Linked DNA regions of Homo sapiens. The protein of the gene in region 3 interacts with the protein of the main gene of each other region in a biochemical or structural test. Each region holds a gene or a part of one and is shown on either strand. Other genes may lie near its edges.

Region 1 (4,877 bases), on a different chromosome or scaffold from region 3:
CCATGAAGTCTCTTCTAGCTCCGAGGTAGAGCCTTTGGTTTCTGCCTGACCCCTATCACCGCCTCCTGGAGAGTGCCGGTACTACACTAACCTGCTCCCCTGGTATCTTTACCAGGATTTCAACCAAATTCACCAGCACCCCCTCTTCCCTGGACCCTATACCAGCTGGCTTTCGCAGGCTAAAGGTGCCAGCACCTGGTGGTGGCTATGTAGGTCAAAGAATCATATGCCAAAAAGAGCTTGGCTCCTGATTCTGCATTTGGCAAAAGAAGATGGGCTTGAGCCCTTGCAGCCTCCCTGTCCTGCTTTAAGGATGCCCTACACACATCCTGCCCAGGTCCTCACCAATGAGGTGCTGGCTCCTGCTCGCCCAGGAGGCCCTCCGCTCCTCTCCCAGGACCCCCAACCCACACCCTCACCACCCAACAAAACCCCTCTGCACATAGAGGCGGTGGGGGGTAAGGCCTGAGCCCCAGGAAGAAAGAGAAAGAAAAACTCTCAACTATTAAATCTGTTTAGTAAAGACAATTTCGCTCATACAAAACAACAGTTTACAACAATCGAGTGCTGGACACACCATCTGAGACAAGGGAGGCGCTGCAGGCACCCAGCGCCTTCCCCCATACACAAAGACGACCCTGGGCGCCCCTCCACCACCTGCCCCTGAGGGAGAGGAAAGGTGAAGTATTCCTGCCACCTCTCCCTCCAAGGGAAGGGGGAGTGGGGGGCCATGGCACAGACAGCCTACCCCAGCTGCTCCTCATCTGTGCTGGGGGAGGCCCCTCCCCTCACCGGCCCCGAAGCTGAGTTGTTTGGGGTGATGGCAAATGGCTGATGGGCAAGGGGGCAAAGTCAGGACATCTTTGGTGCAAAGACTCCCCCTGACCCACCAGGCCACACAATGGAAATCTGAGGGAAGACTTCAAAAGTGGCCCTGCCTTTGCCCACAAGGGGTAGCTGGCTGATGCCCCAGAACCCAGGACAAACACAGGAAATGCAAAAGCTCTGCCAACAGAAGCTGCCCAGGCTCACCTACATGAGCTGGGCGGTGGCCCATGGAGAAATGGCTAAAAATTTAAGGAAAATAAACAAAAATGGGTTAATAATGGCAAGAAGGGGAAGTAGAGAGGTCATTCAGTAGATGAGTGCCTCAGAGGACCTAGGACCAGCACTAAGTGGGGGGAGGGGGGCCCTGGGGGCTGGGGGTCCAGTCTTCCTGATCGCAGTGCCAGTGCCCGGTCACTCCTCTCTGCCTCCCGGAACCCAGCTAATAGAGACAGGCCACAGAGGGCCTGTTTCAGAATCTGGGTGGGCTTCCCAGGCACTTTGGCAGGCTCAGTATGGGCAGGGCAGACCCAAGAAGGGAGAAGGTTCCTAAGCCCCAGCAGGGCCGTCTCCCTCTGCAGCCCTGCCTGCCCCTGGCCCCTCAAATGCACGATCCCAGGCACAGATCTGCGCACTCATACACACGTGTGCACACACACACACACACACACACACATACACTCACTCCTATTTGTCTGGCACACTGGAGATGTCTGAGGGCTCCGAGAGAGGAAGTGCGTGGCATCCTCCTCCAAGGTGGCCTTGAGCTCCCAGAACGCGTGAGCCAGCGGGGACAACCCCAGGCTGTTGTGGAGAAACAGGGAGGGCAGATGGGACAACACAGGGACAATCCCTATGACAGTTTCCACAAATACCCTCTAACAAACCACAAGCCTTTGCAGTATCCAGAGAGGAAGGCGTCTGGTGGAGAGGAGTGGGGCAAGGACAACAAAAGAGGTTTCGTAAAAACTCTAAGTCAAATTACTGATAAAATTGCAAAATGAGCACAGGTTCAAGAGCACCTTGCTCACTTCTCTCCACAGCCTCCCAACCTCCCAGCCTCTCCCACTCTGGGGTGGCCAGAACCAAGGCAGAATTCAGTCACTGATGCAGTTCCAGGCTCCATGCAGCTGAGGAGGAGAGGAGGCAGATGTGGACAGTTCTGTCTCTTCGTTTAAAAAATATATTCCTGTAGAGAGTTATTGCTTGTCCTCCCGTGGGCAGGAGGGCGCGGTGGCTCAGTGGGCCAGAGCCGCAGCCTCCAGGGCCCGAGCTTTCTTCCGCCTCTTCAGCAGCAGAGGGTTGGATGCATCTTCAATCTTTTTTATCTTGATCTGCTCGTAGTCAACGCGCATTGTGGCCAAGGCACTGGTCATCTCCTCCTGGGGGCACGGCAGCACCAGGAAGGGTACAGAGAGAGCCAGAAGACAGGTAGGAGAGACAGCAGAAGAGAGACGTGAGAGACAGAGACAACAAGGGCAGGGTGAGGGCGGCAGGGGTGGGAGCAGAGAGAGAAGACGGGCTGGTTAGTGGTCCACGCTGACAACGGCAGCCTCACCCCAGCGCTGGGCAGCAGAGAGCCTGGCTATGGCACTGCTGCTGTTCCCTGAGAGCCCCCCAGTGATCCCGCAGGATAGGAGGAAGAGACTTGGGCCAGGAGTCAGGAAACCTGGGTCCGGTCTGCCCCAACCAGTCACCAGCTGCGTGACCTTGAGCAGACTGCCCTCCGCCTCTGGGCCTCAGTTTCTCTTCTGCAAAATGAGAAGATGATACCAGATGGTCTTTAAGGTCCCATTAGAGACCCAGGGAATAAAAGGATTCTAAGAAACAGCACTGAGTTTGGACAGGAACACAGAATCCTCTGCTCACAACCTGGTCAGCCAAGTGGCCTGGTCGCTGTTCTTGTCATGAAGACACCCCTGGGATGAGAGAGGCAGAATCAAGCTCTCCCCTACCAGCACCACGCCTCACACCTGGGCACTCCCCGCAAGCCGCCCACCCCACCTGGAGCCCCTCTCACCCAGTGGTGCCCCTCACCTTGACATCCTCCCACCGCTCCTTGTCCTCCTTCAGGACCCGGCTGGTGTGCAGTGGGGTTTGAGGGACCTTTGTTGATTGCTGAGAAGAGAGAAAAGGGGTCCGAGTGAAAGCCTGGGGTAGGGTCCTGGCTAAGACTCTGTCCTGTGGAATAGTCCCGTGAGACCCAAGGCTCCCCAGCCTGCCGAGCTTACCATGATCCAAGGGTGGTTCATAAACTCGGTGATGGTCATTCTCTGGGTGGGCTCTGTTTTCAGCAGATTCCGAATGAGCATCTTCACTGTGGGGTGGGACAGGGGGCAGTGACAGCTCAGGGGTCACTCTCCCTGGCCTGCTCCTTTCCCCAGTTTTCATGGGGAAACCAGGTTCAAAGAGGGGGTGCATGGAGGCAGGCTGCCGGAGCAACTGGCCCCAAGGACCATTACGGCTGTACCACTTGAGAGGCCCTGCACAGCCCCACAGCCTTGGCCCTGCCTCCAGCCCTCCACACAGGCAAAATGAAGCAGGACGCACCCCGCAGGCGTGGGCATAGGTGCTAACCCACAGTTACACCACGCACATGAGATGGAGGCCCATACATGTGTCTGCGTGTACACACATACACACACACACACACACACGGGCTCTTCCCCTTGTCCTGAAAGCCTGGGTTCTTACCTTCCTCTGATACTTCTGACCATTCTGGGTTGGGAAATTCATACTGGCCCATTCGGATGCGAGTCTTCATGCCCGGAGAGATGGCAAGGCCGTGGTTGGAGTAGAAGGGGGGATACCCACACAGCCTGCATCAACAGGAGGAAGGAAGTGGGAGACAGAACAGCTGTCACTTAGTGGCCCTGTACCAGGAACAGGATGAGAAACAGGCTCTTCTCCTTGTAAAGGTCACAGAGAAATCAGGGCTTATTGACACAGGCACAATATACAAAGTCAAGCCCGGGGCCCGGGAATCCAGCATAGCAAGTATCTAAGGCGCACACTTTCCAGCCCATGAGCTGGTTTACACCCGCCACTTAGCTATCGGAACTGAGAGAAGGGGCACGCAGGGGACTCCCCTGTACAAAGGGGAATGCTAACGTCTGCCTCTTCCTCTTGTCCTGGAGAAGTACAGGCCGCCCTGACTCCCTGCCCCACCCAGCCCCCTCCCCAGCACACTCACAGGATGTACATGATGACACCCAGGGACCACATGTCACAGGACTTGTCATACTTCTCTGGACCCAGCACTTCTGGAGCTGCAAATCAAAGGTCAACATGGGTGGGCCGGCCCTCAGAACCCTGTGATCCACTCAGTTTCTCTGTGAAAGATGCTCCCCATCCCAACCTTTCAGCCTATCATGAGGTGGCAGCAGTTGGGGCACAGAAGGAAGAGCCAAAGCCCAGCCCAGGGACTGGAACAGAACATCCTCCTCCATGAGGAACCTGGAACTAGGAGCTTAAGATTCTAAAAATCCTGAACTGCATGAGACTTTCAGGCCCATGCCGTTCATTTAATTTCACAGATGCTCTGAACATGCTTTGAAAGCTTCTTCCATGCCAATCAGCTGTGGCTCCAGAACAAGACCTGGGTCCAGACTCCATGGAGAATCTGATGGAAACCATGGCTCTTCTCAGAAAGATCCCAGCAGATCCTTTCCTACAATTTCTCAACTGTAGCTTCGCTCTGACAAGCCCTACTTCTCAGCAGGTCCCAGCAGAACCAGCACCAGAAGGGGCCATACAGACACAACTCTCCTAGGATTTGCGGCCCCCCAGATAGCCAAGAGGAGGGGCTGAGAAAAGTTCTGGGAAAAGCCTAGGTCCCTGGGCCCCCTGTGGACTTACCCACATAGTACGGTGTATAACAAGGAGTGGTCAAAGAGTTGTGGCTGGTGGTTTCCTTGGCAAAGCCAAAGTCAGTGAGTTTCAGGATGGCGTTGGGCCTTTTGGAGGTGTATAAGAGATTCTCAGGCTACAGAAAGAGAGACAGAAAAATAGCAACCCTGCTGGACCTGGGAGGGGCTATCAGAAACGAAAAG
Region 2 (6,893 bases), on a different chromosome or scaffold from region 3:
CTTCTAGCAAGGTCCCTGGTTGCATGTATTTCCTAAGAGCAGAGTTTATTTCTCTTTACATTCCCTGCTTCCTTGCTCTCCATGCAGGGACCCCAGCCAACCTCTGGGCTGTTGAATAGCTCTCTGCTGGGTGGCAAGCCCTTCTCCTTGGCACCCTGTTGCTTAAGCATACAGATTGCTCACCAGGTGCACACAGACAGCTGTACTGTCCAAGCCCATTCTGCTCCACCCTGTCCTCTTCAGCTAAAGAGCATTCCAGTAATCTAAAGCCCTTTTCCCCTGGAGAAGTCCAGAGTTTGCAGCAGTGTGGAGCTGAGCTTGAACAGAACAGACCCTCAGCACGGCCCTGGACTAATGCACTCTTATCTGAGGGCAGTCCATTCTAGAAGGTTGATGAATTTCCCTACCACTCTCCTGGGGACCTTTTCTCTCTAGTGGGAACAAATGCTACATAATTTAGTCAAGATCCTATTAAGTCATCTCACCTGAGGCATCTGGAGAGGGAGTTGCCTTCCATTGGTGGGAAATTGTTGGTGCCAGAATACATTTTGCCCAAAACTCTTCTCATTGGCTGGCCACCTAGCAGGGCTCCTCTAAACACGCAACTCAGCGAGGGGACCCCCTTCACCTCTGGCAAGAGAGCTGGGTAGATCAGAAACTTGGTGACACCTGGCTAGCACAGAGCAGGCTCACTTGTCTTGGTCCCACTACCCAGATTCCTGCAGACATTGCAAACCAAATGAAGGTTGTTGAATGACCCCTGTCCCCAGCCACTTGTTTTGTTATCATCTGCTCTGCAGTGGAATGCCTGTGTGTTTGAGTTCACTCTGCATCTGTATATTTGAGTATAGAAACCGAGTCAAGTGATCATGTGCATCCAGACACACTGTGTCACCTGAGCCACAGAGCAAATCACCTTAACGATCTGGAATGAAACTGTGACCAGTGCCGCCCTGGGTGGTTCTGGAGAGACTGCCGTCTTCTTGTTTGGCCATAGGTGCTGGGGCCCCGGCTTCAGTCACTGTCTCAGACAGGAGTCCCGATAAGCAGATCACCAGTCCTCCACTGTCCTTCCTGTCGGCCTTGCTGCATGAGAAGATAGCTGCTTCCTCCCTCTTTTCCTACACTGTAATTATTGTTTTACAATTGAGTGCCTTAATAATAGTTTACAAATACTATGTATTTATGCAAAACTGTTAAAGTCTCATCTGTTATGATTGGATACTTGGTCTTGTCAGTAGTGGTCAGCATTGGGTTGTGAGCTTGTCCTACTCCATACGTGTTTATCCTGCTATGCAGTTTTACATTGTGTGTTCACATCTATTCCAAGGAGCCTTGCTAGAAACAACACTGGCGGTTCCTGCAGGCCAGGCAGGCATTGGCCCATGCTGTGTCCCATAGGAGCCAATGAAAGAACGTAGCTTGGTCTGCTAGCCAGCCGTGGGGTGGCGCAGGCCAGGCAGCCTCTGCACCAGAGTCCAGCACCTGCCCATTCCCCAGTCACACAATCATACTCTTCTTTCATAGAGATTTTATTACCACCTAGACCACCCTAGTTTTCCTCTCTGTTAGTGTCCTGAGCTCTTTTGCAACAAAATGTAGGTACAGACCAATCCCTGTCCCTTCCCCAATCAGGAGCTCCACACCATGAGTTGTTTGGTTTTCCAGAAGCTGCCAGTGGGTTCCCGTGAATTGCGTTAAGATATCGATGATTTTTTTTATTGTTTTTCTTCTTGTTTTTTTAAATAATATATTTAAAGGCAGTATCTTTTGTACTGTGAATTTGCAGTAGAAGATGCAGAATGCACTTTTTTTTTACTTCTGTTGGTGTGTATTGTATATAGTGTGTGTGCTTCTTGTGATGAAAATAAACTTTTTCTTTATAAATTCCTGATGACTGAGTTTATATAAAAGGAAACTGCTTCCTCAGCCCTTGCCAAAACAGTCTGATACATCGTCATCATCATCGTCATTGACATGGCCAGTCTTTATTGAGCATCTATTACATGCTCAGTTCTTTGCTAGAAAACCTGGACAAGTTACACCAAAGAAAGGACCACAGGAAGAAATGATAGTTCCTCCTGGAACTAGTCTGTTTTCTTTCTAATTTTGTCAGTAAGCAAGAACAGGCCCACCTGTGGGTGGTCCTTTGTGTACCAAAAAAAAAAAGTTACCCACCAGGAAAGGATTTGGACTTTGGGTGGGTTCTCTTCCCGTACAAGTAGGAAATGTAAAGCCAGAGGTGTGCACTAAAGAACATCTAACCTGCTCCCACCAGCCCTGGTGGGAGAGGGAGGACCCTGGAGGCTAAGTACTGCTGGTTTCCAAGGTGCATGCTCATGTCCCAGTCCACTTCACCCCAGGCAGCTTTTGGTGGCTCTTCTCCCTTGGACACTCAGGAGGCAGAGCTGCTTCCATTTTTTTTTTTTTAATTTTTTTTTTTTTTTTTTTGAGACTGGGTCTGGCTCTCTTGCTCAGGCTGGAGTTCAGTGGTGCCATCATAGCTCACTGCAACCTCGACTTCCTAGGCTAAAGTGATCCTCCTGCCTCAAGCAATCCTCCCACCTCAGCCTCCCCAGTAGCTGGGACTACAGGCGTGCACCACCTTGCCCCGCTAATTTTTACAATTTATTATAGACATGAAGTCTCGCTTTGCTGCCCAGGCTGGTCTTTAATTCCTGTCTTCAAGTGATCCTCCCACCTTGGCCTCCCAAAGTGCTGGGATTACAGGTGTGAGCCACCTCAACTTCCATCTTAAAATTCTGCCTCCTTAGAGTTCTTTGCTTTCTGCTGTGTAGTCAGGGAGGAGTCACATTCACTCAGTCTCCTCTGTCTGGATGCGATACATCATTTCTACTTGCTTTCCAGTGGGCAGGGCCCAGTCACAGGGTCCCAATGCAACAGCCAGGGAGACTGGGAAATGTATGGGGCACATGTATTTGGTGAGCACTAACTGTCACAAGTACCTGGGCGTGACCCCTAAATTCCAGTGCCTGCAGAGCCAGGAAGTATTTTGTTCAGTTCATCTGGACTTGCTCTGTCTCTCAACTGGACTCAAAAGACTGATGAATAAACCAGAATGCAAGTTTATTACTTTACCAAAAGAATTATAATCATCAAGCAGACCAGATTGCTCACATGCTGATTAGCACATTTAGTCCTGCTAGGTAAGTCTTTCTTTTTTTGAGACAGCCTGGAGTGCAGTGGCAGTCATGGCTCACTGAAGTGTTGATCTCCTGGGCTCCAGCAATCCTGCCTCAGCCTCCCAAGTAGCTGGGACCAGAGCCACACACTGCTGCACCCAGCTAAATTTATTTATTTATTTATTTAAAAGATAGGGTCTCACTATGTTGCCCAGACTGGTCTTGAACTCCTGGTTTCTGATGATCCTCCTGCCTCAGCCTCCCAAAGTGTTGAGATTATAGGCATGAGCCACTGTGCCCAGCCCCTTCTAGGTAAATCTCTATGGGGTGCCAAATTTTGGTTAAGAATTGCTTATTGAATATTAAAAGTTTAGTGGGATGCTTCTTTTTTTTTTTTCTTTTGAGATGGAGTTTAGCTCTTGTTGCCCAGACTGGAGTGCAATGGTGTGATCTCAGCTCACCGCAACCTCTGCCTCCTGGGTTCAAGTGATTTTCCTGCCTCAGCCTCCCGAGTAGCTGGGAATACAGGCATGTGCCACCACGCCTGGCTAATTTTGTATTTTTAATCGAAATGGGGTTTCTCCATGTTGGTCAGGCTGTTCTCAAACTCCCAACCTCAGGTAATCCACCCGCCTTGGCCTCCCAAAGTGCTGGGATTATAGGCATGAGCCACCGCGCCAAGCCACAGGATGCTTCTAATAGTGTTATCAAGCTATAATGCAGCCCTCTCTGTAAAATGTTTTAAAAACAAATCACTGAGGGTCATGGTTCAAGACACTGTTCTCTGGCAAGGTTGAAGATAGCTAACAAATTCTCTTTGGGTTCCAGCCATGAATGGGGTGGGATGGGCCCCAGCAATCTGTATGTTTCTGAGATTCCCTGGGAATTCTGATGGCCAAGTTTAGAAACCATCAAAATAAGAATATGATGCAACTGAGTAGGCTCACGCTTTGCTAATTACATTGCACACATGCTTTTTGGAGACAACACCCACACTACCCTAACAATGTGTGTTCATAAAACTCATCCGATACTTATTTGTTCAAGGCCCTAGGACAATATTCCTGTAATGGGCTGCTTTTGCCCTGATTTCCTCCTCAGAGTAACTGTCTCGCGGTTGGGCACGATCCCAGATCACATCTACAGTGGAGGTGGTTTTGCTGGGGAGGATCCGCATGCTTGTTTGTGTTTATGCCTGGGGAACCCCCTCTTGGCAAGATGTTCGGGAGAGGCTCCAAAGGCAGCACAGAGGACGGCTTGGAACTTAGGGGGATTCACTTTATGGTAAAGAAGCCCTTTCTAAAGGAGAGCTCCACCCAGGAAACACCACCCACCCACGCATCCTTGCCTCCTAAAACCAGGTTATGTTTATCACATACCTTCTATGTGCTTTACATAAAGAATCCCCTGGAATTCTCCAAACTGGGCATTGTGGTCTGTGATGCATATCTCAAAAGAGGTGAGAGGGTTGGGCACGGTGGCTCACGCCTGTAATCCCAGCACTTTGGGAAGCCAAGGCAGGTGGATCACTTGAGGTCAGAAGCTCAAGACCAGCCTGGCTCACATGGTGAAACGCCGTCTCAACTAAAAATACAAAAATTAGCCGGGCATGATGGCGGGCGCCTGTAATCCCAGCTACTCGGGAGGCTGAGGCAGGAGAATCGCTTGAACCCAGGAGGTGGAGGTTGCTGTGAGCCAAGATTGCACCACTGCACTCCAGCCTGGGTGACAGAGTGAGACTCTGTCTCAAAAAACAAAAAAAAGAAAAAAAAAGGTAGAGGAGAGTCCTTTTTCTAACTTTCTTGAACTCTTTGGACTACCTTGGGATCCTTCTATTAACTGCCTTGTTGGCATTATTCTCAGTTTATGAAAAAACAGGCCCACAGAGTGGAAGTAATTTGCCTACAGGTACATCTAAAAATTGATGAAGCCAGATAGGAACTGCTCCCTCATCATCTGAAACCCTTCCCAGAGCTGTCTCTCCCACCCCAGAAGTAGAAAGAAGCCAGACAAAGATGCATCTTGATCTCCCTTGTGGTTTCAGCAAGGAAGCAGATGAGTTGGAGATGAAGCCCCCAGCCCCTGGGAAATTGGACCCACTTCTTGCTCCAAAGGCTATTGGGGTGACACAAGGTGTGTTTCTTTCCCGTAGATCATATTCACCATATTTTGCCTTTAAATGGAAATTGTGCATCCTGAAGTACCTTGTTAAGAGTCCATTTTCAACCTGAAATTCCTTTTTTTTGTAAACCACTTCAGCAAATACAGTGTGGCATTTACATTAGCAACCTCCCAGCCTAGGAGAGGATGCTCCAGCATCCGACTCTAAAAGACAAATTTGGGCACGGTGGCTTGACGCCTGTTATCCCAACACCTTGAGAGGCCGAGGCAGGCAGATTGCTTGAGCCCAGGAGTTCAAGACCAGCCCAGGTAACATGGTGAACCCCCATCTCTACCAATAATACAAAAATTAGCCAGGCATGGTGGTGTGCCAGTGGTCCCAGCTACTTGAGTGGCTGAGGTGAAGGATCTCCTGAGCCTGGGAGGCAGAGGTTGCAGTGAGCCGAGATCGAACCACTGCACTCCAGCTTATGCAACAGAGCAAGACCGTGTCTCAAAAACAAATAAAAATAAAAGATTTTAAAAAGACAAATTATCCCACAAATGGTACATTGTGGTGGTGGTGGTGGTGGTGGTGGTAGACCTCCCTCTTGCTCTTGAAATTGGATCAGAACAAACTGACAATGCTACCTACTTCATGGGGTCATTGGTGAATTCACTGATAATGCATGCAAATCCCCTTCTGCCTGGCACACTACCTAATAAATAAATGGTGGTTGTTATTGTTGGAATTGGAGGATATATTCCTAGTTGCAAGGGTTTCACATGTATTACCAAGTTAATCCTCACCGCAGATATGATTCTGTTTTACAGAGGAAGCAGTGGATGCTCAGAGAGGTTAGGTAACGTGGGTCAGGGACACACAGCCAGGAAGGGGCAGAGGCTGGGAGTGCCTGACTCCAAATTCATGCAATTTCTACCCCACCATCTTCTCCCCAAGGAAAATAGTCCCTAATGCATGTGTGCAATGCTTAGAGGGCAGTAGATGCTCAACAGATGCTGAGAGAGTGAGGGAGTAAATGAGATATGCCATGAAAAGGAGCCCCTGTGGACTTATGCGTGCGTTTGTTTAACTTGTGGGCAAGTACTTATAGACAGGTGCAAACAATAAATCTCCTTTTGCAACTGAGAACTTGTTGTTCAGTATGAGTTTTGATACATATAAGAAAGGCTATTATGATACCTAAGACAGTTAACTAAGGGAGGGAGTATTGATAACCATAAGTGTTAGTTGCAGGCTGGGCACAGTGGCTCATGCCTGCAGTCCTCTCACTTTGAGAGGCTGAGGTGGGAGGATTGCTTGAAGCCAGGAGTTCAAGACCAGCCTGGGCAAGAAAGCAACACCCCATCTCCACAAAACTTTAAAAGTTAGCTGGGTGTGGGGGCATGTGCCTATAGATGTAGCTACTCTAAAGGGGAGGCTGAGGCAGGAGGATTGCTTGAGCCCAGGAGTTGGAGACTGCAGTGAGCTTTGATGGCACCACTGTACTCCAGCCTAGTCAACAAAGTAAAACTTGTCTCTTAAAAAAAAAAAAAAAAACAAAAAAAAAGGTTCTAGGACTGTAGAATCATTAGCTTAAAAGCATAGGATTTGAGGGAAAACCTCAGTTATATTAATTTCGTATTCCA
Region 3 (9,188 bases):
CTTTGAGACCCCTGTGGCTTCCCCCCATTGAAGAGATGAGACTGAGGCTCACAGAGGGAGCTGCTTTGCCCGGGGCCGCACAGCGGGGGTGGCTGGCTCTGCCCAGGACTCACCATGCTCTTGATGATGCCCCGGAGCGTGCCGCCCTTGATGTACTCAGTGATGAAGTTGAGCCTCTTGTCCTTGTAGAGCACCCCGATGAACTTGAGCACGTTGGGGTGTTCCAGGCATCGCATGACCTTCACCTGGCGGGGCACAAACAGGCTGGGCCCGGGCTCTGTGTGGTCCCAGCTGTGCTTGGGTCTGCTTCTCCCTTTTCCATCCCACCAGGGGCTGTAGGCGGTCTCAAAGATACGGAACCCCCAGCTCCCCTCTCCTGCCTCTGCCACACCCTCTGGCGTCCTGTGCCCTCTGCTTGAGCTGCCCCCACCCCCAGCGATGCTCTTTTTCCCAGTCCCCTGCCTGCAGTTACTTTCTTTTTTCTTTTCTTTTTTTTTTTTTTGAGAAGGAGTCTCACTCTGTCGCCCAGGCTGGAGGGCAGCGGCACGATCTTGGCTCACTGCAACCTCCGCCTCCTGAGTTCAAGAAATTCTCCTGCCTCAGCCTCCTGAGTAGCCTGGATGACAGGCACTCACCACCATCATGCTGGGCTAATTTTTGTATTTTTAGTAGAGACGGGGTTTTGCCATGTTGGCCAGGGTAGTCTCGAACTCCTGACCTCAGGTGATCCGCCCGGCTCAGCCTCCCAAAGTGCTGGGATTACAGGCGTGAGCCACTATGCCCGACCAATGCAGTTACTTTTATTTTTTTTGGACACAGGGTCTTGCCTTGTTCCCCAGGCTGGAGTGCAGTGGTGCGATCATGGCTCATTGCAGCCTCCAACTCCTGGGCTCAAGCGAGCCTCCCACCTCAGCCCCCCGAGTAGCTGGGATGACAGGTGCACATTGCCAAGCTCGGTTAATTTAAAATTTTTTTGTAGAGACGGGGTCTTGCTATGTTGCCCAGGTTGGTCTCAAAGTATCCTCTCTCCTTAACCTCCCAAAGTGTTGGGATTACAGGCGTGAGCCACTATGCCTGGCCTGCTCGCTCTTCTTTCAATGGTTCCCAGAGCCCTTTTCCGACCTGTGTTGATGGGGCAGGGGTGAGCACCTGGAAGTCCCTCTGGAGGGAAGAGGGCATTCCGCTCACTGACCTCCTTGAGGAACGTCCTCTGGGTCTCCTCGTCGAACCGGATCAGCTCCTTCATCACCATCACCTCACCTGTCTCACGGTGTGTCACCTGCGTGTGGGACACAGAGGTGTGAAGACAGAAGCTCTGCTGTAAGCCCGCCTTCTAGGAAGCCCCATCTCCACCCCAGGACTGCCAGGGAGATGTGCAGATGGCTTCATACTCTAGGCTGTGCATGGGATGTTCCCAAATACCCAAGTGGATGGGATGTATTAATCCCTTGTCTTTTTTTTTTTTTTTTTGAGATGGGGTCTTGCTCTATTGCCCAGGCTGGAGTGCTGTGGCATGATCATAGCTCACTGCAGCCTTGAACTCCTGGCTCACAATCCTCCTGCCTAAGCCTCCCAAGTAGCTGGGACCACAGGCATGCACCACTATACCCAATTAATTTTTAAATTTTTTGTAGAGATGATGTCAAGGCTGGTCTTGAATTCCTGGGCTCAAGCGATCCTACAGCCTTAGCCTCTCATGGTGCTGGGATTACAGGGATAAACTACTGTGCCTGGCTAGGAGCCACCTTTCAATGACCTCCCGCACATAAGGTCTCAGTCTACCTGTAGGAGGTCCCCTGTTCCTAATTAGCTCCAGGAGGCCAAGGGAGGAGAGGGCACTGGCCAGGGAGTCTGGAAGCCAGATACCCCTTCCACTGTGTTTCCATAGACTGGGAAGGAAGGAGGATGGAGGGGTCCCACCCAGACTGTCCCCTGAGACCCTGGCATGCTCTGTACCTTGATAGCCTGGCCGAAGCAGCCCTTGCCCAGCACCTCCCCGTGGATGAGGTCCGACGGCCGGAAGATGCGGTGTGGCCGGCAGACTACGCGGAGGGACTCAGAGCGACCCAGGTCCTTGCGCTGGGAGGCCGGGGAGCCCAGTGAGCCAGCGCCCGGAGACCTGTCGATGCTGCAGCTCCTCCTGGGGGGCACACATGGTGCCAAGTGCCACCGGGGGACAGGTAGCACCCGGCCAAGGCCCTGCCCCTTCCTCCTCCTGCCTGCATGCCCCTGTCCATGCCAGTCTATGCAATCACCCCCTGCTTTGGGAGGGCCCGCCTGGGACAGTCCAAAGGCTGCCCATCCCAGTGTCTCGGCCTATCCTGGCTCTAGTGGCAGCCCCCAGCTCCCCTCAACCCCTCAGATCCTGCTCTGTCATCCTCTTTTTTTTTGAGACAGAGTCTCACACTGTTGCCCAGGCTGGAGTATAGTGGCGTGACCTTGGCTCACTGCAACCTCCATCTCCTGGGTTCAAGTGATTCATCTGCCTCAGCCTCCTGAGTAGCTGGGACTACAGGCACCTGCCACCAAGCCCGGCTAATTTTTGTATTTTCAGTAAAGATGAGGTTTCCCATGTTGGCCAGGCTGGTCTTGAACTCCTGACCTCAGGTGATCCACCTGCCTCGGCCTCCCAAAGTGCTGGGATTACAGGCATGAGCCACCACGCCTGGCCCCGTCCCCGGCTTTTTAAAAAATGTGTGTTTCCTCTTTTTTTTTGAGAGTGGGTCTTGTTTTGTCACCCAAGCTGGAGAGCAGTGGTGTGATGACAGCTTACTGCAGCCTCCACCTCCCTGGCTCAAGCCTGGGCTGCATTTGTGCAGGGCTGGCTCCCCGACCTAGGTCCCACAGCCCCTGAGCCCCAGCAGGAGTGAAAGCACCCAGCTGAACCGAGGAGCAGGCTGACTTACAAGACAGGTTTCTGCCGGGCAGAGCTGCCCGCCTCCCCGCTGGGAGTATAAGCCGGAGAGCTCAGGGGGCTGGTCTCAGGCCCCAGCCCGTGGCCCAGTGTATCGTGAGGGTCATGCTCGAGGGTCAGCTGGAGCAGGCGGCTGGTTTCCTGAATCAGCAGGTCAATCTGGGGACAGCAGGCATGTGAATGGGGGTGGAGTGGGGAGGGGGCTAGGCATGAAGGCACTACCTCCCGTCCTGCCCCACAGACTCAGGACCGTACCTCGTCCAGGGGCACATTTCGGATGGGCGTGCCATTGATTTCCAAGATCCGGTCTCCGACGTGGATGGAATTCTTCACATCTGGGCTCATGCAGCCCGGATCCACTCTGTGGGTAAGGCAGGGGTCAGGCCAGTGCCCACCTGTCCCTCAGAGCCCCAACAGGAAACCAAGGCGAAGGGCACCAGATCCAGGGTGAGCAGGTGGAGGATTCTACTTCGTGTGACTGGGAAGTAGCAGATGGCCAGAACACCGAGTTCTGGTTTCAGGGGAGGAATTCTGTAATCAATTACTGATGTCTGCCACAGGTGTGAGCTGGAGAAAGGTGGCACGCTTGTAGGCACTGGCCACCCACACAAGATGCTCAGCTGTTCCCATTCAATGGACCATTGTCTCCACCCTGGGGGAACAGATCTATCCTTCCAAATCCCAGGTATGTTTGGTCTCGAATTTTTTTTTTTTTTTTTTTTGGAGACAGAATCTCACTCTGTTACCCAGGCTGGAGTGCAATGGCACAATCTCAGCTCACTGCAGCCTCTGCCTCCTGAGTTCAAGCGATTCTCGTACCTCAGCCTCCTGAGTAGCTGGGATTACAGGTGCACACCACCACACCCAGCTAATTTTTTTTGTATTTTTAGTAGAGACGGGGTTACACCACATTTCCCAGGCTGGTCTCGAACTCCTGAGCTCATGCAATCCGCCCGCCTTAGCCTCCCAAAGGGCTAGGACTGGCCGGGCGCAGTGGCTCACACCTGTAATCCCAACAGTTGGGGAGGCCAAGGTGGATGGATTACTTGAAGTCAGGAGTTTGAGACCAGCCTGGCCAACATGGTGAAACGCCGTCTCTACTGAAAATACAAAAATTAGCCGAGCGTGGCAGTGGGCGCCTGTAGTCCTAGCTACTTGGGAGGCTGAGGCAGGAATTGCTTGAACCTGGGAGGTGGAGGTTGCAGTGAGTCAAGATTCTGCCACTGCACTCCAGCCTGGGTGGACAGAGCGAGACTCCGTCGCAAAAACAAAGTGCTAGGATTACAGACATGAGTCATTGCACCTGGCCTGCCTGGTATGCTTGGGGCAGATGAGTGCCTTGGGTCCCAAAAAGGTCCCGGATTAGTGGCTTCATATCTGACTCCCAAACTCGCCCTGCAAGAGGAGGCCAAGCTCTATTGCTCCTGCATTGGCAGGAGGGAGCTGGCAGCTTGCCCTGAGCCACAATTGCAGGGTGAAGACGGGAAAGAGACCCTCGATCAGTTGCCTATAAGCTAACTCACAAAAAGACCAATTTGCCAAATTTACTTATTTCTTTTAACTCTTCGGTGTTAGGGACCTGGTTTTCTTTTCTTTTCTTTTTTTTTTTTGAGACAGAGTTTTGCTCTTGTTGCCCAGGCTGGAGTGCAATGGAGTGATCTCGGCTCATTGCAACTTCCGCCTCCCAGGTTCAAGTGATTCTCTTGCCTCAGGCTCCTGAGTAGCTGGGATTACAGGCATGTGCCACCATGCCTGGCTAATTTTGTATTTTTAGTACAGATGGGGTTTCTCTATGTTGGTCAGGCTGGTCTTGAACTCCTGACCTCAGGTAATCCACCCACCTTGGCCTCCCAAAGTGCTGGGATTATAGGCGTGAGCTGGTTTTCATTTTGCCTCATAAAAGCTTTTTAGGGAATGCTCACTTTGTCTCTGCCCTAGGTCCTGGAGATGGAAAAGGGGATGGGGGTAAGGCAGAGAGGAGACTGAGAACTTTAAGAAAAACAGGGCCAGGTGTGGTGGCTCATGCCTGGAATCCCAGCACTTTGGGAGGCCAAGGTGGGAGGATTGCTTGAGACTAGGGGTTTGAGACCAGCCTGGGCAGCATAGCAAGACCCCATCTCTATGACATTTTTTACAGAAAATTAGCTGAGCATGGTGGCACACTCCTGTAATCCCAGCTATTTGGGAGGCTGAGGTGGGAAGATCACTTGAGGTCAGGAGTTCGAGACCAGCCTGAGCAAAATAGTGAGACCTCACCATTACAAAAAATAAAAAATTAGCCAGGCATGGTGGTGCTGCCTGTAGTCCCAGCTACTCGAGAGGCTGAGGCAGGAGGATCGCTTGAGCCCATGAGGTCGAGGCTGCAGTGAGCTATGATCATGTCACTGCACTCCAGCCTGGGCAACAGAGTGAGACCCTATCTCAAAAAAACAACCAAGCAAACAAAAAGACTATTCTCGTATGGGGGAGAAGCTCTTCCTTACAGTAACAAATGCAGAAGGAAGAACAGAGTTAGAAATTCAGCATTTGGTAGCCACCCTAGTAATAATCGCTACAGGCAAGAATCATCAATAGATGCTCAAATCATTTGGGGAAGGGTTTTTGGGAACAGGATATTTACAGACTCAAATCTCACAAATGGTTTATTGATGACAAAGGGAAAAAAATCCTTACAGTACAGAAAAAACAAGTAATCAAAGTGAACATCCTCAGCAAAGGGCACACTGACATCATATGTCTCCTGGCAAGATCCACTCGGAAGGACAGAGGATCACTTATGCAGTATCAGGCCAAACCTGCAGAGCCTGTCTCCCTAAGAGGAAACATCAGTCAAACCCAAATGCGAGGGCAGGTACGATGGCTCACGCCTGTAATCCCAGCACTTTGGGAAGCTGAGGCGGGAGGATCACTTGAGCCTAGGAGTCTGAGACCAGCCTGGGCAACACAGTGAGACCCTGTCTCTTTTTAAAAAAAAAAAAAAAAAAAAGGAAAAACATTTTACTTTAATGACTGGCCTGTACACTTCAAAAATGTCAAGATCATGAAGGGCAATGAAAGGCTGAGGAAATGGCCAGACGCAGTGGCTCATGCCTGTAAACCCAGCATTTTGGGAGGCTGAGGTGGGTGGATCATTTGAGGTCAGGAGTTCAAGACCAGCCAGGGCAACATGGTAAAACCCCGTCTCTAATAAAAATACAAAAATTAGGCATGCATAATGGTGCACGCCTGTAATCTCAGCTACTTAGGAGGCTGAGGCAGGAGAATCACTTAAGCCCAAAGGCGGAGGTTGCAATAAGCCAAGATTGCGCCATTGCGCTCCAACCTGGGCAACAAGAGCAAAATTCCGTCTCAAAAAAAAAAAAAAAAAAGATACTGATGACACATGACGATTAAATGCAATGTTGATCATGGACTGGACTGTGGATGAGGGGGAGATTGCTATAAAGGACAGCTCAGTAGTTCAGTATAGAGACAATAGGCAAAATTTGAATATGGTCTGTGTATTAGATAATGGTATCAATGTTACATTTCCAAAATGTGATCACTGAACTATAAGATACAATTGATAATTACATAACAGAATGCCTAGCCAGGCGTGGTGGCCCGTGCCTGTAGTCCCAGCTACTTGGGAGGCAGAGGTGGGAGGATCACTTGAGCCTGGGAGGTTGAGGCTGCAGTGAGCTGTGATCGCATCACTGCACTCCAGCCTCAATGACAGTGATACCCTGTCTCCAAAAAAAAAAAAAAAAAAGAGAAGGTCCTTCTTTTGAGAATATCTAGCATAATTGTGGGGGAGTCAATGATCCCTGCAACTTACTCCCAAACGATCAATAAATAACAACATGTACATGTATGTACAAATATAAACAAGTCACTAAACATGTATATGTATCTGTATCCATATATGTATATATAGAGAGACACACATATAACTCCCAAATATGGCAGTTACGAATTGGTGAACCTTGGTGAAGGGTGTGTATGTATTCAATGGACTTATTATTTTAGCAAATTTTCTATAAATCTGCAAAATGCGAAGATGAAAAGTTGAAAAAAACCAAAGAAAATATTTTCATTGATACAGGCTTTGCATGCATATAACCTTAAAAATAAGCCAGGCATAGTGGCTCACGCTTGTAATCCTAGCACTTTGGGAAGCCAATGTGGGAGGATTGCTTGAGCCCAGGAGTTCAAGACTAGCCTGGGCGACACAGCAAGACTCAGTCTCTACAAAAAATTAAAAAATTAGCTGGGTGTGGTGGTGTGTGCCTGTAGTCTCACTACTCAGGAGGCCGAGGTGAGTGGATTGCTTGAGCACAGGCATCTGAGGCTATAGTGAGCTATGATTGTGCCACTGCACTCCAGCCTGTATGACAGAGCAAGACCCTGTCTCAAAAAAAAATTGTGTGTCTATATATATATATATATATATATGACATACATATGTAAATTCCTTAGAATCTCACATCCTCTCCCTTGGTTTGCTAAAGCAGCAGGTGGCCTGGATAAATTAGACCTTCCTTAAAACGCTGCTATACACAAAATGAAAAGCGGTCAACTAAAACCAGTTTAAAACAAATAAGTAAATCTTTGGCAAGTTGGGCTCTTTCTGGGAAGGGTGTGGCTCTTTGCAGAACTGGGATGTTCCAGATGTTGGCTGGGCGAATGCTTACCCAGTGAGGCAGACAGGGAGGAGACGTCATTAACTGTCTTCTTCATTTTTATTTTAGAGATAGGGTCTCGCTCTGTCGCCCAAGCTGGAATGCATGGTGTCATCATAGCTTGCTGCAGCCTCCACCTCCTGGGCTCAAGCAATCCTCTCACCTCAGCCCTCCGAAGTGGCTGAGATAACAGGCATGAGCCGCTGCACCCAGCTGACTGTCTTCATTTCTAAAATTCTGCCTGGATTTCAGGGACCAGCTGCAGCCTCTGACTCTGTGGGGACCTCCCTTGGCCCTCTGGTAAGAGCCGTTGGTCTGGGAGTTTCCTCATCTCTTTCAAGCAGCTGTCTGCTCATCATGTATGTAAAGCAGCTGCTGGCTTGGCTGATGTCAAGGGATGGAGACACACAGTCAAGCCCAGTATAATTTTCTGTCCCCAGGGCCACCTTCACATCTCAACAGTGCCTATGCAGTGCCAGGCACCTGCCAGGTGTACAAGAAACATTCACTGCGTCAAATGAAAGCTAGCACTTGGTAGGGCCGGGCGTGGTGGCTCATGCCTGTAATCGCAGCACTTTGGGAGGCCGAGACGGGCGGATCACGAGGTCAGGAGATCGAGACCATCCTGCCTAATATGGTGAAACCCTGTCTCTACTAAATATAAAAAAAAAATTAGCCGGGCATGGTGGCAGGTGCCTGTAGTCCCAGCTACTCGGGAGGCTGAGGCAGGAGAATGGCGTGAACCCAGGAGGCGGGGCTTGCAGTGAGCCGAGACCACACCACTGCACTCCAGCCTGGGCGACAGAGCGAGACTCCGTCTCGAAAAAAAAAAAAAGAGAGAGAGAAAGCTAGCACTTGGGCCGGGCACGGTGGCTCACACCTGTAATCCCGGCACTTTGGGAGGCCGAGAAGGGAGGATCACTTGAGCCCAGGAGTTTGAAACGAGCCTGGCCAACATGGTGAAACCCTGTCTTTACTAAAAATACAAAAATTAGCCACATGTGGTCACCTGTAGTCCCAGCTACTCAGGGGGCTGAGGTGCAAGAATTGCTTGAACCTTGTGGGTGGAGGTTGCAGTGAGCTGGTATCACACCACTGCACCCCAGACTGGGCGACAGAGTGAGACTGTCTCAAAAAAAAAGAAGTGACCAATTGCCCAAAAGTAGAAACACTGCATGCTACTTCTCAAGGTGTCAATAAAGGCGCCACAGAAATCTTAGAAAGCTCCAAGGTATCCAACTCCCTCATTGTTCAAACAGACCCCCAAAGCCTAGAGAGAAAGCAGCTGCTCAAAGTCACACAGTAATCTAATCTTTATCAGCCCTGCCCCATTTTTTTGAGACAGGGTTTTGCTCCATTGCCCAGCCTAGAGTGCAGTCGTGCAATTATAGCTCACTGTAGCCACTTCCTGGGCTCAAGAGATCCTTCTGCCTCAGCCTCCCAAGTAGCTGTGACTACAATGTTTCCCAGGCTGGTTTCGAACTCCTGGCCTCAAGTGATCCTCCCATCTCAGCCTCCCAAAGTGTTTCGATTATAAGTGTGAGCAACCATGCCCAGCCTTTATGTGTTCAGTGATTTCACCATGCCTGGCTAATTTTTAATTTTTTTTTTTT

Evidence for each region. Proteins that work in one complex are often made in the same cells at the same time.
Region 1: of the proteins of LIMK1 (region 3) and MAPKAPK2, one has a biochemical effect on the other in vitro, tested with the Homo sapiens proteins (one study listed by BioGRID and IntAct).
Region 2: the proteins of LIMK1 (region 3) and SSH1 form a complex in vitro, tested with the Homo sapiens proteins (one study listed by IntAct).

The regions. Positions count from the first base shown.
Region 1 is NC_000001.11:206,729,905-206,734,781, reverse strand, and holds the end of MAPKAPK2 (MAP kinase-activated protein kinase 2), read right to left. Parts: intron 4,811-4,877; coding exon 4,684-4,810; intron 4,095-4,683; coding exon 4,019-4,094; intron 3,645-4,018; coding exon 3,520-3,644; intron 3,143-3,519; coding exon 3,057-3,142; intron 2,944-3,056; coding exon 2,863-2,943; intron 2,745-2,862; coding exon of another isoform or gene 2,691-2,744; exon of another isoform or gene 2,208-2,690; coding exon 2,064-2,207; 3' UTR 501-2,063; downstream 1-500. UniProt on the Homo sapiens protein: Stress-activated serine/threonine-protein kinase involved in cytokine production, endocytosis, reorganization of the cytoskeleton, cell migration, cell cycle control, chromatin remodeling, DNA damage response and transcriptional regulation.
Region 2 is NC_000012.12:108,777,691-108,784,583, reverse strand, and holds the end of SSH1 (protein phosphatase Slingshot homolog 1), read left to right. Parts: 3' UTR 1-6,393; downstream 6,394-6,893. UniProt on the Homo sapiens protein: Protein phosphatase which regulates actin filament dynamics. Dephosphorylates and activates the actin binding/depolymerizing factor cofilin, which subsequently binds to actin filaments and stimulates their disassembly.
Region 3 is NC_000007.14:74,099,962-74,109,149, reverse strand, and holds part of LIMK1 (LIM domain kinase 1), read right to left. Parts: intron 3,276-9,188; coding exon 3,170-3,275; intron 3,074-3,169; coding exon 2,907-3,073; intron 2,141-2,906; coding exon 1,957-2,140; intron 1,280-1,956; coding exon 1,193-1,279; intron 246-1,192; coding exon 114-245; intron 1-113. UniProt on the Homo sapiens protein: Serine/threonine-protein kinase that plays an essential role in the regulation of actin filament dynamics. Acts downstream of several Rho family GTPase signal transduction pathways.